Linked DNA regions of Homo sapiens. The protein of the gene in region 1 interacts with the protein of each later gene in a pairwise test. Each region holds a gene or a part of one and is shown in the gene's direction. Other genes may lie near its edges.

Evidence for each region. Proteins that work in one complex are often made in the same cells at the same time.
Region 2: the proteins of PLXNA1 (region 1) and L1CAM interact in a two-hybrid assay, tested with the Homo sapiens proteins (one study listed by BioGRID).

The regions. Positions count from the first base shown.
Region 1 is NC_000003.12:127,033,916-127,038,970, forward strand, and holds the end of PLXNA1 (plexin-A1 precursor), read left to right. Parts: intron 1-6; coding exon 7-102; 3' UTR 103-3,474; downstream 3,475-5,055. UniProt on the Homo sapiens protein: Coreceptor for SEMA3A, SEMA3C, SEMA3F and SEMA6D. Necessary for signaling by class 3 semaphorins and subsequent remodeling of the cytoskeleton. Plays a role in axon guidance, invasive growth and cell migration.
Region 2 is NC_000023.11:153,861,034-153,869,173, reverse strand, and holds the end of L1CAM (neural cell adhesion molecule L1 isoform 1 precursor), read left to right. Parts: intron 1-221; coding exon 222-333; intron 334-446; coding exon 447-613; intron 614-715; coding exon 716-872; intron 873-1,051; coding exon 1,052-1,176; intron 1,177-1,263; coding exon 1,264-1,374; intron 1,375-1,620; coding exon 1,621-1,818; intron 1,819-2,049; coding exon 2,050-2,120; intron 2,121-2,302; coding exon 2,303-2,525; intron 2,526-3,354; coding exon 3,355-3,470; intron 3,471-3,673; coding exon 3,674-3,875; intron 3,876-3,963; coding exon 3,964-4,086; intron 4,087-4,179; coding exon 4,180-4,353; intron 4,354-4,469; coding exon 4,470-4,589; intron 4,590-4,696; coding exon 4,697-4,852; intron 4,853-5,156; coding exon 5,157-5,291; intron 5,292-5,624; coding exon 5,625-5,697; intron 5,698-5,794; coding exon 5,795-5,806; intron 5,807-6,279; coding exon 6,280-6,511; 3' UTR 6,512-7,658; downstream 7,659-8,140. UniProt on the Homo sapiens protein: Neural cell adhesion molecule involved in the dynamics of cell adhesion and in the generation of transmembrane signals at tyrosine kinase receptors.

The DNA.
Region 1 (5,055 bases):
CTGCAGATCCTGGCAGCCCTGGAGAAGGATGAGCAGGCGCGGCGGCAGCGGCTGCGGAGCAAGCTGGAGCAGGTGGTGGACACGATGGCCCTGAGCAGCTGAGCCCCAGCTGTGATCATCCAGCATGATGCAGCGTGAGGACAGCTGAGCAGGGACCGGGACAGCCCTCACCGCATGCGTGTGGAGTGTCCGGTGGTGCTCGGGCCGCCGCAGTGCAGCGACTGCCCGGCCCTCCCTCCCCTGCCTCACCCGGTCGGGTCCCGGCTCTTCCTGTGTGGAGGTGATGGTACCTGCCACACCACAGCTGCGCACACAGCTGCTTGCTCAGGGGCCGGGACAGCACTGGGTGCTCAGGCTGGCCAAGGACCTTCATTGCCTGGCAAGAGCTGCCCAGTGGCCTTCATGGGAGAAGGGCTGACCTCTGAGGGGCTGAGGGGTGAGGCCAGGGCCCTCCAGGGGGAGGGGTAGCCAGCTTGGGCTGTCCCCTTGAGACCAGGACAAGAGGCTGGGGGTGTCAGCATTCCCAGCTTTCCAAGCTGCCCCCAGGCGGCAGAGTCTGAGGGTCCCGGGGCCCGGTTGGCAGCTGGAGAAAGAGGCAAAAAGCCCGTAGCCGGGCAAGAGGAGCTCAAGTCGGTCTGGGCCCGTTGCCACCGACTCCCACCTCCAGCACCCATGCCCGCTGCACCGCTGCCATCCTCAGATTCACCGCGTGCTCTGCGCGGCCGAGGCCGGAGCACCACATCCACCTCGCCCCAGAGAGGCTCTGCTCCCTCCTATGGAGGGGCTGTGGGCCAGGCTGCTCAGACTCCTGGGTGGCTTCCAGACGGACCGGGCAGCCCCTCTCCGTCCTCAGGGCTGTGCCTCTGGGAGCCACTGGGCCAGGGGCCCCGGGTCGCAGAGAGCACGTTCCCGTTATTTATTCCCCTCCGCGTCCTACACAGGCTGCCCTGGCAGCTGTCTTCAAGGGTAGGCTGAGCTCCCCACCCTGGAGCCCCTGAGGGCGGCCCCTGAGCACTCCTCTCTCTCCACTCTCTCTGTCCCTGCCCCAGCGGCTTCCAGTGTGGCATCTCAGCAGTGTCCTGGCCCCTCCAGAGCAGTGGGACATCTGGGGACTGTTTTTGTGTTTAGGGGAAAAAATTCTGCTGCACTCTGCTTGGGCCTTGAGGTCTGTGGCAGGGCTCCTCTGGCCCGCAGTGGCCTGGATCTATCTGGGCCATGAGTGACGGGCAGTGACCAGAGGGACTGGAGGCCAGCGGTGTCCACCCTTGCCCTCAGCAAGAGAGAATGCATTCTTAAAAGAAAGCTGTACATGTATATATATGCATATATATATATGTGGCTCTAGCCTCAGGCTCCAGCCCCAGTGGGGTACTGTACAGTTAACTGAAGAAGAATTTTAAAGACGATTTGAACAAGAAAATGAAGGCAGTGGGAAAGCAATGCCAAATGGTTGTGGAGAAAGTGGCCGGAGCCTCCCTGGAGTGGAGCAGCCCTGAAGCCTGTGCCCCCCGACCTGCGGGCCGCTGTTTTGGTTTGACATGACAAGGAAAGGACTTCCTGCTGACCCTGAGAGCCTCTGGGGTGCCGCGGCACCACGGGGCATGCATGATTGTGCTAGCGTTTAGTCTGAGTTGATCTTTTTAAAACTGCAAGTGTTGAATACTAGAGGTTGTTAGACCCTTTTTTATGTTTTTTAATTAATCAGTCACTTGTAAAAGCAAACAAGCGGTCCATCCCCTTTTCAAGGTCACTTTTTTGATGGTACCGAAGATCCCATGGACATTAAGGGACAGCTAACTGTGGCCAGACTCAGCCCCATGTCCTTGGCCAGGCCCAAGGAGAGGACTCGGCCCCATGGGGTGTGCCAGTCTTGCAGTCCGCCCCAGCTGAGTAGCGTGAGCCAGATGACGCCACAGAGACCCGCCTCTTCCCTGAACGCGGGTCGGTGTGGAGTCAGTGACTGCTGACTCAGGGAGCTCCTTGGCCCCGTGGGCACTGTGCCAGGGCTGGGGCCTTCTGCTGCTGCCACACCCAGCTCAGGCCTGGGCCAGCCCCTGCCCCCAGCCCACTGAGGGGGTGGGCTTACTCCCTGGGCAGTCTTGGGGGCCAGAGCTGAGGCCAGTCCATATTACAGTGGCTGGGCTGTTTTTTTCAGTAGCCCCTAGCATTGGCTGGGATTCCTGTTCCTGGGTGCGCCTCCACCTCCCTTCTGATGTTTCCTGGCTATGGTGGGGTGGGAACCTCAGTTTCCCCCAAAGTCTTCCCTGGATGCTGGCTTCAGGTTGAAGTCCCTGGTTCTTCCAGTTCCTCACGGGTTAGGTAGGGGCTCCTGCATCACCTTCAGAATCCAGTTCCAACCCCCACTCTCCTTAGGCCTTGTGCTCTGCTCTGCCCTGCCAGGCTGCCCTTGTCCATGTGAGTAGCATGGGCGGGTGGTGGGGACGGCAGTGGTGATGAAGGGGGTGCACCACAGGCCTCATGAAGCAGTTCCCACATGGGCGTGTGGCTGGGGCGTGGCCACCACAGAGCACATGGCTGTGTCTAGGCGCAAGCACTTTAGCAGTATCTGTTTACATGCGCAAGGATCAAGCCGACTACCTGTGCTGTCTACTGGGACAGCAGTCTCCGAGCTACTCCGTACCTCCCTCTGCCAGGTCGTGGAGTTAGGCCCCAGTCCCTACTTGTCACTGGTTCCCACTGTGCTCCTAACTGTGCAGCACCTGGGAGCTCTGGCCTGGGGCTGGAGGCCCTGGTAGGAGCTGCAGTTGGAGGCCGTTCTGTGCCCAGCAGCGGTGAGCGGCTCCCATGGGCCCTGTGTCTGCAGGGAGCCAGGGCTGCGGCACATGTGCTGTGAAACTGGCACCCACCTGGCGTGCTGCTGCCGCCACTTGCTTCCTGCAGCACCTCCTACCCTGCTCCGTGTCCTCCCTCTCCCCGCGCCTGGCTCAGGAGTGCTGGAAAAGCTCACGCCTCGGCCTGGGAGCCTGGCCTCTTGATATACCTCGAGCTTCCCCTGTGCTCCCCAGCCCCAGGACCACTGGCCCCTTGGCCTGAGGGGCTGGGGGCCCCACGACCTGCAGCGTCGAGTCCGGGAGAGAGCCCGGAGCGGCGTGCCATCTCGGCTCGGCCTTGCTGAGAGCCTCCGCCCTGGCTTTCTCCCTGTCTGGATTCAGTGGCTCACGTTGGTGCTACACAGCTAGAATAGATATATTTAGAGAGAGAGATATTTTTAAGACAAAGCCCACAATTAGCTGTCCTTTAACACCGCAGAACCCCCTCCCAGAAGAAGAGCGATCCCTCGGACGGTCCGGGCGGGCACCCTCAGCCGGGCTCTTTGCAGAAGCAGCACCGCTGACTGTGGGCCCGGCCCTCAGATGTGTACATATACGGCTATTTCCTATTTTACTGTTCTTCAGATTTAGTACTTGTAAATAAACACACACATTAAGGAGAGATTAAACATTTTTGCTAAAAGCTCTTGGCTCCAGGTTTTCCTTGCTGGGAAGCAGGGGCGGCCGCAGGAGTGCAGCCACATCCCAAACACGGAAGCATATCTCCCTGGGAGACTCAGCCACACCCAGGACAGATGGCCACACTCTGTGAGTTGGGTGCGCTCAGCCCAGGTGACACATTGGAGCCCTTGGCGGAGACTAAAACACCAGTGCCTGACCCCCACTGGAGCCTTGGAGCTTCAGGGGTCTGAGCGGTGGTCACTTTTAGATGCTTCCCAGGCGATTCTCCCGTGACCCCTAGCTCAGAGCAGTGGCTTCCAGCCCATGCCGTGAGGCAGGAATTCCTGGGTGCCTTGTTAACTAAAATCAGATTCTGACCCCGAGGGGCCCATGAGCGACAGCCTGGGGGAGCTGAGGCTGCAGTCCTGGGCCCCCTGCCTTCAGTAGCCAAGGCTGGAATTGTGTTTCCCAGACTCGCAGCCAAGGAACCGGGTTTGAGAAATGTTGGTCTTTCCAGCAGAGACAGGCTATGCTGCTTCATCTCATGAAAATGTGTACAGATACTAATGATGGAGGTGTGGATGCAGCTTCTGCCAGTGCATGGCTTTGGTCAGTGGCCCCGTCCCTGGGCTCATTTCATCCATGGCTCAACAGGGGTGGCTGCTCCTGCCGCAGAGGGTGGGTGCAGGGTCAGGTGTGACACATCCCCAAGGGCCCTGGGCACCTGCTCTGCAGCTGCGCCTCCAGGCAGACCCCAACCTGGACCGTCTGAGCACTGCCTGTAAGTGAACTCACTGGGACTTCCCGGCAACCCTGGGAGGTTAGGGGCAGCTGCACCTGCAGCTGAGGAATTGAGGCACACAGAGGTTGCACAATGTGTCCCAGCCACATGGTGGTAAGCAGCAGCCCGCCCAAACGTAGGCCCTTGGGACCCCAGGCCCTCCCCACCGCCCCCAAGCTCCCACCTGTCTCCCACCAGCCTCTCCATGAACTCGTTCCCAGGGCTGACAGTGGCCCATAAGTCATCAACAATACCTCCCACTCTCAAACAGGCGCATCTTGACAGTGGGGCTGCAAGCACAAGCTCTGTGCCAGGCTCAGTAACTCAAGAGAAATCAGTGTAATCACCACGAAATTGTGTCGGAAACAAATTTAGCAAATGTGGTCCCGTTTAGGGTGTGACGCAGCCTGTTCTCATGGCTCAGTCCCCTTCAGCTTTTTTCCGGCACAATCAGCCCATCCTCAATTACCCTCATTAGGCCTCCAAGGGCTCCAGCCCATCAGCCTGGAAGCTGAGCCATCTCTGAGCCGCAATCAGCGCTCGCTGTGCGAGTGATCGGGCGCAATTACACAGCAGCGGTGATGGGGCCTTCTGATTGCTGCTTGAGTGCGCTGGCTCCTGAGGGTATTAAACCATCAGCTATTAATGCTGGTGGCTCTGAGCAGGGCACCTGGATGGGCTTGCTGCAGAGCAAGGGCGAGGCCAGCCTGTGGGCCTGGGTGGGATGGAGGCACCCTCCACCCAGAGCAGATCCAGAGGTGACTTCAGACTTCCCACCTGGACCCCAGAGCAGCCACAGCTCAAGAGCAAACACAGGCTCTG
Region 2 (8,140 bases), on another chromosome or scaffold:
ACGTAAAAGTTGGGTGGCTGTGACCAGAGGCGCATCTGAGGCAGAGGGCAGTGTCTGAAGGCAGAGAGAGACACAGCCTGGCGGGGGCCTCAGCTGGGAGCAGGGAAGCAAGATTTGCAGGGCTCTTGGGGGCCCGAGGAAGCCGTGCAGAGGGTCCCTGGCTCCTGGCCCAGCTGTGGTCCCAAGTCCTGCCCTGTCTCCTGAGGCTGTTCCTCCCCTAGAGCTGCCAGCCAAGATCCTGACTGCGGACAATCAGACGTACATGGCTGTCCAGGGCAGCACTGCCTACCTTCTGTGCAAGGCCTTCGGAGCGCCTGTGCCCAGTGTTCAGTGGTGAGTGTCTCGTCCTGGTAGTGGTGAGTGTCGTGTCCCAGTGGCCAGGGAGCCAGGGAGGGCAGGGAGCCCAGGCCAGCCAGTCAGAGCCAGGCCCGCCCTGCTCCCTCCAGGCTGGACGAGGATGGGACAACAGTGCTTCAGGACGAACGCTTCTTCCCCTATGCCAATGGGACCCTGGGCATTCGAGACCTCCAGGCCAATGACACCGGACGCTACTTCTGCCTGGCTGCCAATGACCAAAACAATGTTACCATCATGGCTAACCTGAAGGTTAAAGGTCAGGCAACCCTTGCCACATGGCTGGCAGTGCCTCTGGGAGGGAGGGTCTGGGCCTCTGGAGGACAACAGAGTGACTTCCCCACGCACGCATTACCCTCAGATGCAACTCAGATCACTCAGGGGCCCCGCAGCACAATCGAGAAGAAAGGTTCCAGGGTGACCTTCACGTGCCAGGCCTCCTTTGACCCCTCCTTGCAGCCCAGCATCACCTGGCGTGGGGACGGTCGAGACCTCCAGGAGCTTGGGGACAGTGACAAGTGAGGACAGTGACGGTGAAAGGGGGCAGAGTGGGAAAAGCTGGAAGTCCAGACCTCTTGGCCTCGTCCTTGCTTTGATGGGGAAGGCTCTGACAGGAGCGGGGGAAGGAGACAGGAGGGAGGGATGGGAGGGGAGAAGAGCCCAGATGGCAGGAAAGACAGACACGGCTCCTCCGCAGGTACTTCATAGAGGATGGGCGCCTGGTCATCCACAGCCTGGACTACAGCGACCAGGGCAACTACAGCTGCGTGGCCAGTACCGAACTGGATGTGGTGGAGAGTAGGGCACAGCTCTTGGTGGTGGGTAAGTCCTAGGGTGGAAGCCTCCACTCCAGAAGGCCGGGGCTCACATCCCTGGGCCCTTTCAAGCACCGACCCTCCCCACCCTCAGGGAGCCCTGGGCCGGTGCCACGGCTGGTGCTGTCCGACCTGCACCTGCTGACGCAGAGCCAGGTGCGCGTGTCCTGGAGTCCTGCAGAAGACCACAATGCCCCCATTGAGAGTAAGAGGCTTGAGCTCAGTGCCACCCCACCGTCACTTCTGCCAGCCCTGGCCCCTCCTGGGGTCCTCCCTCCTCCTGGAGCCTTCCTGGGGGGACACGGTTTGGGGGGACTCACGGTTCCTCATGGGAATCTGGAGATGCCAGTTGGCCTGGGTAATCAGGGACCCAGACTGTACCCAACCCCTCCACAGCCCTTCCCCCAAAGCCACATGCTGATCACTCCATTGTCGGTTCATTTCTTGGCAGAATATGACATTGAATTTGAGGACAAGGAAATGGCGCCTGAAAAATGGTACAGTCTGGGCAAGGTTCCAGGGAACCAGACCTCTACCACCCTCAAGCTGTCGCCCTATGTCCACTACACCTTTAGGGTTACTGCCATAAACAAATATGGCCCCGGGGAGCCCAGCCCGGTCTCTGAGACTGTGGTCACACCTGAGGCAGGTGAGTCAGGGTGGCACCCACTCCCATGCCACCTGGAAGGGGCTCCGGGCTGTGAAGGGAGGGCTTAGAGAGGTGCCATGCCCAAGTTCCTCTGCTTCCAAATTTCCAGGGGGAGCGCGAGGGGGCTGGACTCCCTTGGTGCCAGAATGAGCCATTTGTTCCTTGGCCCTCGGTCCTCGTGGCTCTCCAAAAGAGGCTGCAGCATTGATGTGTTAATACTTTCCTTTCCAGCCCCAGAGAAGAACCCTGTGGATGTGAAGGGGGAAGGAAATGAGACCACCAATATGGTCATCACGTGGAAGGTGAGAGTCCCTGGGCTGAGCTGCCTGGGGGACATGAGGCCATGACCTGGGTGTCTGTTGCTCCCCCTTGGCTATGCAAAGGAAGGGGCTGATGTCTGGGGATGCTGGTTTGTGCTGGGGGGCGGGCCAAAGAATGCTGGTGTTCTTGGCCAACCAACTCCTCTTCTGCTGGCCTCCTCCAGCCGCTCCGGTGGATGGACTGGAACGCCCCCCAGGTTCAGTACCGCGTGCAGTGGCGCCCTCAGGGGACACGAGGGCCCTGGCAGGAGCAGATTGTCAGCGACCCCTTCCTGGTGGTGTCCAACACGTCCACCTTCGTGCCCTATGAGATCAAAGTCCAGGCCGTCAACAGCCAGGGCAAGGGACCAGAGCCCCAGGTCACTATCGGCTACTCTGGAGAGGACTGTGAGTATCCGGCAGGGCCCCTCGCCCACGGTTGAGCTCGCCTGCTTCCACCCCAGCCCATGTCCACACCTCTCAGCATTGGTGTGCGCCTTTCCTAAGGATGAGGATATTCTCTTACATAACCAGAGCGACGTTATGAAATTCCCCACACTTCACATTTCTATAATTGGCAGCGGTATTCCAGTTATATCAGCCAATGCTGCTTCTTTCATTTCCTTGAATCTGGAACATGACCAGATGGTAACTTGAAGTACCCGGTCAAGTTTTTTTTCTGGTTTCTCCTTTTTTTCTTTTCTTTTTTCTTTTCTTTTCTTTTCTTTCTTTTTTTTTTTTTTTGAGATGGAGTCTTGCTCTGTCATCCAGGCTGGAGTGCAGTGGAGCGGTCTTGGCTCACTGCAACCTCTGCCTCCCGGGTTCAAGCGATTCTCCTGCCTCAGCCTCCTGATTAGCTGGGATTACAGGCACGCGCCACCACACCCAACTAATTTTCGTATTTAGTAGAGATGCGGTTGCACCATGTTGATCAGGTTGGTCTCGAACTCCAGACCTCAAATGTTCCACTCGCCTCTGTCTCCCAAAGTGTTGGGAATACGGGTGTGAACCATCACGCCCAGCCATGGTTTCTCCTTTGTATAAGCTACTATTTTCACCTTTGCAACTAATAAGCAGTCCAGGAAGAGATCTTGAGACCATGCAAACACACCTCTCCTCCTCAAACTGTACCTCATAAAATATCCGAATTCGTCTTCTCTGTGTGTAGGGGCTTGGGCCTGGCCTCAGGGCTGGGGTGAGAGCCTATGGCTCTATCCAAGTCACTGGTGGTTTCCAGACCCCCAGGCAATCCCTGAGCTGGAAGGCATTGAAATCCTCAACTCAAGTGCCGTGCTGGTCAAGTGGCGGCCGGTGGACCTGGCCCAGGTCAAGGGCCACCTCCGCGGATACAATGTAAGGGTTGAAGGCATGGGGGCCCAGGAGGGTGATCACTGAGGTAAAGCGACAGGATGGTGAGGGGGCTTTGCCACCTGCCAGCCGCTCTCCTGGAAGACTTGGGTTGAGAGGAGGGTCCCCATTAAGGGTGGTGGGGGTGTGCGCTGGGGGCCCTGCTGGGTGCCTTCTGCCCCTGCGAGGTCTCCTGTTCGCTTGTGCAGGTGACGTACTGGAGGGAGGGCAGTCAGAGGAAGCACAGCAAGAGACATATCCACAAAGACCATGTGGTGGTGCCCGCCAACACCACCAGTGTCATCCTCAGTGGCTTGCGGCCCTATAGCTCCTACCACCTGGAGGTGCAGGCCTTTAACGGGCGAGGATCGGGGCCCGCCAGCGAGTTCACCTTCAGCACCCCAGAGGGAGGTGAGTCCTGCACCCCACGCCTCATCCCCTGCCCTCCTCCCCAGACCTGGGCGAGGACCTACCTGCCACTCGGTTCTGTGCCCTGCAGTGCCTGGCCACCCCGAGGCGTTGCACCTGGAGTGCCAGTCGAACACCAGCCTGCTGCTGCGCTGGCAGCCCCCACTCAGCCACAACGGCGTGCTCACCGGCTACGTGCTCTCCTACCACCCCCGTGCGTGCGCCGCCCCAGCAGGGAAGGGAGGTGGAGGGGCCACGGGGAGGGGGCAGAGCTGCAGCCACAGCCAACCCCTGTCTGTCCCCACAGTGGATGAGGGGGGCAAGGGGCAACTGTCCTTCAACCTTCGGGACCCCGAACTTCGGACACACAACCTGACCGATCTCAGCCCCCACCTGCGGTACCGCTTCCAGCTTCAGGCCACCACCAAAGAGGGCCCTGGTGAAGCCATCGTACGGGAAGGAGGCACTATGGCCTTGTCTGGTAAGCTGGAGGAATGACCTGCCAACAGGGAGGCCCCGGCCAGCCGGGTCCAGGAGGGAGGGCCTTAGACTTCCTGGCAGCTGCCACACTCTCCTCGTTCCCCTGCATCCCCCCAGGGATCTCAGATTTTGGCAACATCTCAGCCACAGCGGGTGAAAACTACAGTGTCGTCTCCTGGGTCCCCAAGGAGGGCCAGTGCAACTTCAGGTTCCATATCTTGTTCAAAGCCTTGGGAGGTAAGCGTGAAAGGGGGCCTTGGGGCGTGGTGGGGAAGGGGGCTCTGGGCCAGAGGGGTTGCCTGGCACTCCGACTCACCCCTGCTGCCACCCTCTCTCCCTGGCAGAAGAGAAGGGTGGGGCTTCCCTTTCGCCACAGTATGTCAGCTACAACCAGAGCTCCTACACGCAGTGGGACCTGCAGCCTGACACTGACTACGAGATCCACTTGTTTAAGGAGAGGATGTTCCGGCACCAAATGGCTGTGAAGACCAATGGCACAGGTGAGGCGCCGGGGGCCCGCCATCACCTGCCAGGGAAGCATGGGGGCTGCACAATTCATGTCCTTCTGTCCCCTGAATGGCCACTACTGCCCAGGCTCCCTCCACGGCTCCTGTCTGCTTCTCCTCCCAGAATCTGGGTGTCCCCGAATCAGCCCCCTTTCATACCCTTTCCGCAGATGCCCTTTTCCCTGTCCCTGTCACTCCTTAGCCCCCCAGAGGGCCCCAACTTTAAGAGCATACTTCAGGGCCTCAGGTCGGGTTCTGGCTTGGGCGGCAGCACGGGGGGCTGGTGTCTCACCCTCAGGCCGCGTGAGGCTCCCTCCTGCTGGCTTCGCCACTGAGGGCTGGTTCATCGGCTTTGTGAGTGCCATCATCCTCCTGCTCCTCGTCCTGCTCATCCTCTGCTTCATCAAGCGCAGCAAGGGCGGCAAATACTCAGGTAGCCTCTGAGCCCCACGTGACGGGGGTGGAGCCGAGGGCAGAGAGGAGCACCTCGCCCCTTCCACCCTTCTGCAAGGCCTCCTGGATTCCCCGAGCTCCCCACAAGATGACAGGCGCATGGTGGGGGCAGGCAGGGGGATCATCCTCCCAGGCCGGGGTTGGGGCAACAGGCAAGTGGTGGCTGGACCGCAGGGGGTGAGCGGTTTCTTTCAAGGCCTCTTGCCTCTGGGCGCTGTTGAGACAGAGTGCTGGGGGTGCGGGGCGTAGAGGGGCCTGGAGCCCCGGGTCAGGCTGGGGCGGGAGAAGAAGCTGTCCCTCTCTGTGTCTCCAGTGAAGGATAAGGAGGACACCCAGGTGGACTCTGAGGCCCGACCGATGAAAGATGAGACCTTCGGCGAGTACAGGTGAGCCGGGGCAGGAGTGGGTGCTGGCACTCAGCTCCACCCTGGCCTTCACATCTCACCCCCTCTCTCTCTTCTCTGTGCTGCCGGGTGACTTCAGGTCCCTGGAGAGGTAAGGCAGGGGCGGTGGGGAGGGGCCAACAGCAAGGTCTCCCTATAGACAATGTGCGCCTGGTGTGCCATTGTCCCCTGGCTGCCGGGGCTCTGACAGGACTCTCACTTCCCAGCCCCCAGGCCCGGCAGCTCCTCATTTCAGGGAGAGGCCAACACGCCCCAGCCCCTCCTCTCCACACAGATACCTTCACTGCTCCCCTCTCCCCAAGGGAGGCCCCAGACAGCTTCCCAGACAGGAACCAGGCCCCATAATCCCCTGGCCGAGCGCACATTTTCTCCCTCACAGTCCCCAGGATCTGGGGAATGCCCAAAGATGACAGCTCCAGACCTGCCTGCCAGGGTGGCCAGAGCTGCTCTTTCTGAGCGCATTCTAAACAAATGGAAGGCAGGCGGGCGTCTGCCTCACCCCCAGCCAGGCTCCTGCAGGGGCTCGGCAGTGCTCTCACTCGCACCTGCCCTGTGCCTCTGCAGTGACAACGAGGAGAAGGCCTTTGGCAGCAGCCAGCCATCGCTCAACGGGGACATCAAGCCCCTGGGCAGTGACGACAGCCTGGCCGATTATGGGGGCAGCGTGGATGTTCAGTTCAACGAGGATGGTTCGTTCATTGGCCAGTACAGTGGCAAGAAGGAGAAGGAGGCGGCAGGGGGCAATGACAGCTCAGGGGCCACTTCCCCCATCAACCCTGCCGTGGCCCTAGAATAGTGGAGTCCAGGACAGGAGATGCTGTGCCCCTGGCCTTGGGATCCAGGCCCCTCCCTCTCCAGCAGGCCCATGGGAGGCTGGAGTTGGGGCAGAGGAGAACTTGCTGCCTCGGATCCCCTTCCTACCACCCGGTCCCCACTTTATTGCCAAAACCCAGCTGCACCCCTTCCTGGGCACACGCTGCTCTGCCCCAGCTTGGGCAGATCTCCCACATGCCAGGGGCCTTTGGGTGCTGTTTTGCCAGCCCATTTGGGCAGAGAGGCTGTGGTTTGGGGGAGAAGAAGTAGGGGTGGCCCGAAAGGGTCTCCGAAATGCTGTCTTTCTTGCTCCCTGACTGGGGGCAGACATGGTGGGGTCTCCTCAGGACCAGGGTTGGCACCTTCCCCCTCCCCCAGCCACTCCCCAGCCAGCCTGGCTGGGACTGGGAACAGAACTCGGTGTCCCCACCATCTGCTGTCTTTTCTTTGCCATCTCTGCTCCAACCGGGATGGGAGCCGGGCAAACTGGCCGCGGGGGCAGGGGAGGCCATCTGGAGAGCCCAGAGTCCCCCCACTCCCAGCATCGCACTCTGGCAGCACCGCCTCTTCCCGCCGCCCAGCCCACCCCATGGCCGGCTTTCAGGAGCTCCATACACACGCTGCCTTCGGTACCCACCACACAACATCCAAGTGGCCTCCGTCACTACCTGGCTGCGGGGCGGGCACACCTCCTCCCACTGCCCACTGGCCGGCCTCTTCCAGCCGCCCCCACCCCCCAGGACCCCTTAGCAGCCCTGCCCTCCCTATCGTCTGAACAGTTGTCTTCCTCAGCCTCCTCCCGCCCCCACCTTGGGAATGTAAATACACCGTGACTTTGAAAGTTTGTACCCCTGTCCTTCCCTTTACGCCACTAGTGTGTAGGCAGATGTCTGAGTCCCTAGGTGGTTTCTAGGATTGATAGCAATTAGCTTTGATGAACCCATCCCAGGAAAAATAAAAACAGACAAAAAAAAAGGAAAGATTGGTTCTCCCAGCACTGCTCAGCAGCCACAGCCTCCCTGTATGCCTGTGCTTGGTCTACTGATAAGCCCTCTACAAAAAAACAAAAGTATATATATATATGTACATAATATCAGAATTATAACAGGCAAATAAAACCTGAAAATCAAGAGCACCTTTTGTTATTTCGCGGAACACTTACTTCCCCTGTCCACGTCACACTGTGGGAGGTGCTAGGAGCGACCTGCCAGGCGGGCCCGGGTGTGGCCCAGCCACACAGTCCTGATGCTTCCCTGCCCCTTCCCAGAGCCCGGGCCTTCCACCCACCCTGCCAGGCCTGGCTGTTGGCTGCCTTGGGTGTTGCTGTCACATTGTTGCTGGGGCTCAGGATCCTCGCCTCTGCTGGCCTCCTGAGACCAAGCTTAGCTGTCACCATGGCCGGGCCCTTCACTGCTCAAACATGAGAGTAGAGTGTGGCCAGCGGCAGGAGCCTCTTCCCCTGTCTCAAGGGACACAGCTCCATGGCTCAGTGGAAGACTCATGATGTGCCCCGGTGGCATCGTTCTCTCTGGGGTACCCAGCCCTCTAAACCAGTACAAAGCACCTTATTTATTTATTTTTTGAGACAGGGTCTCACTCTGTCTCCCAGGCT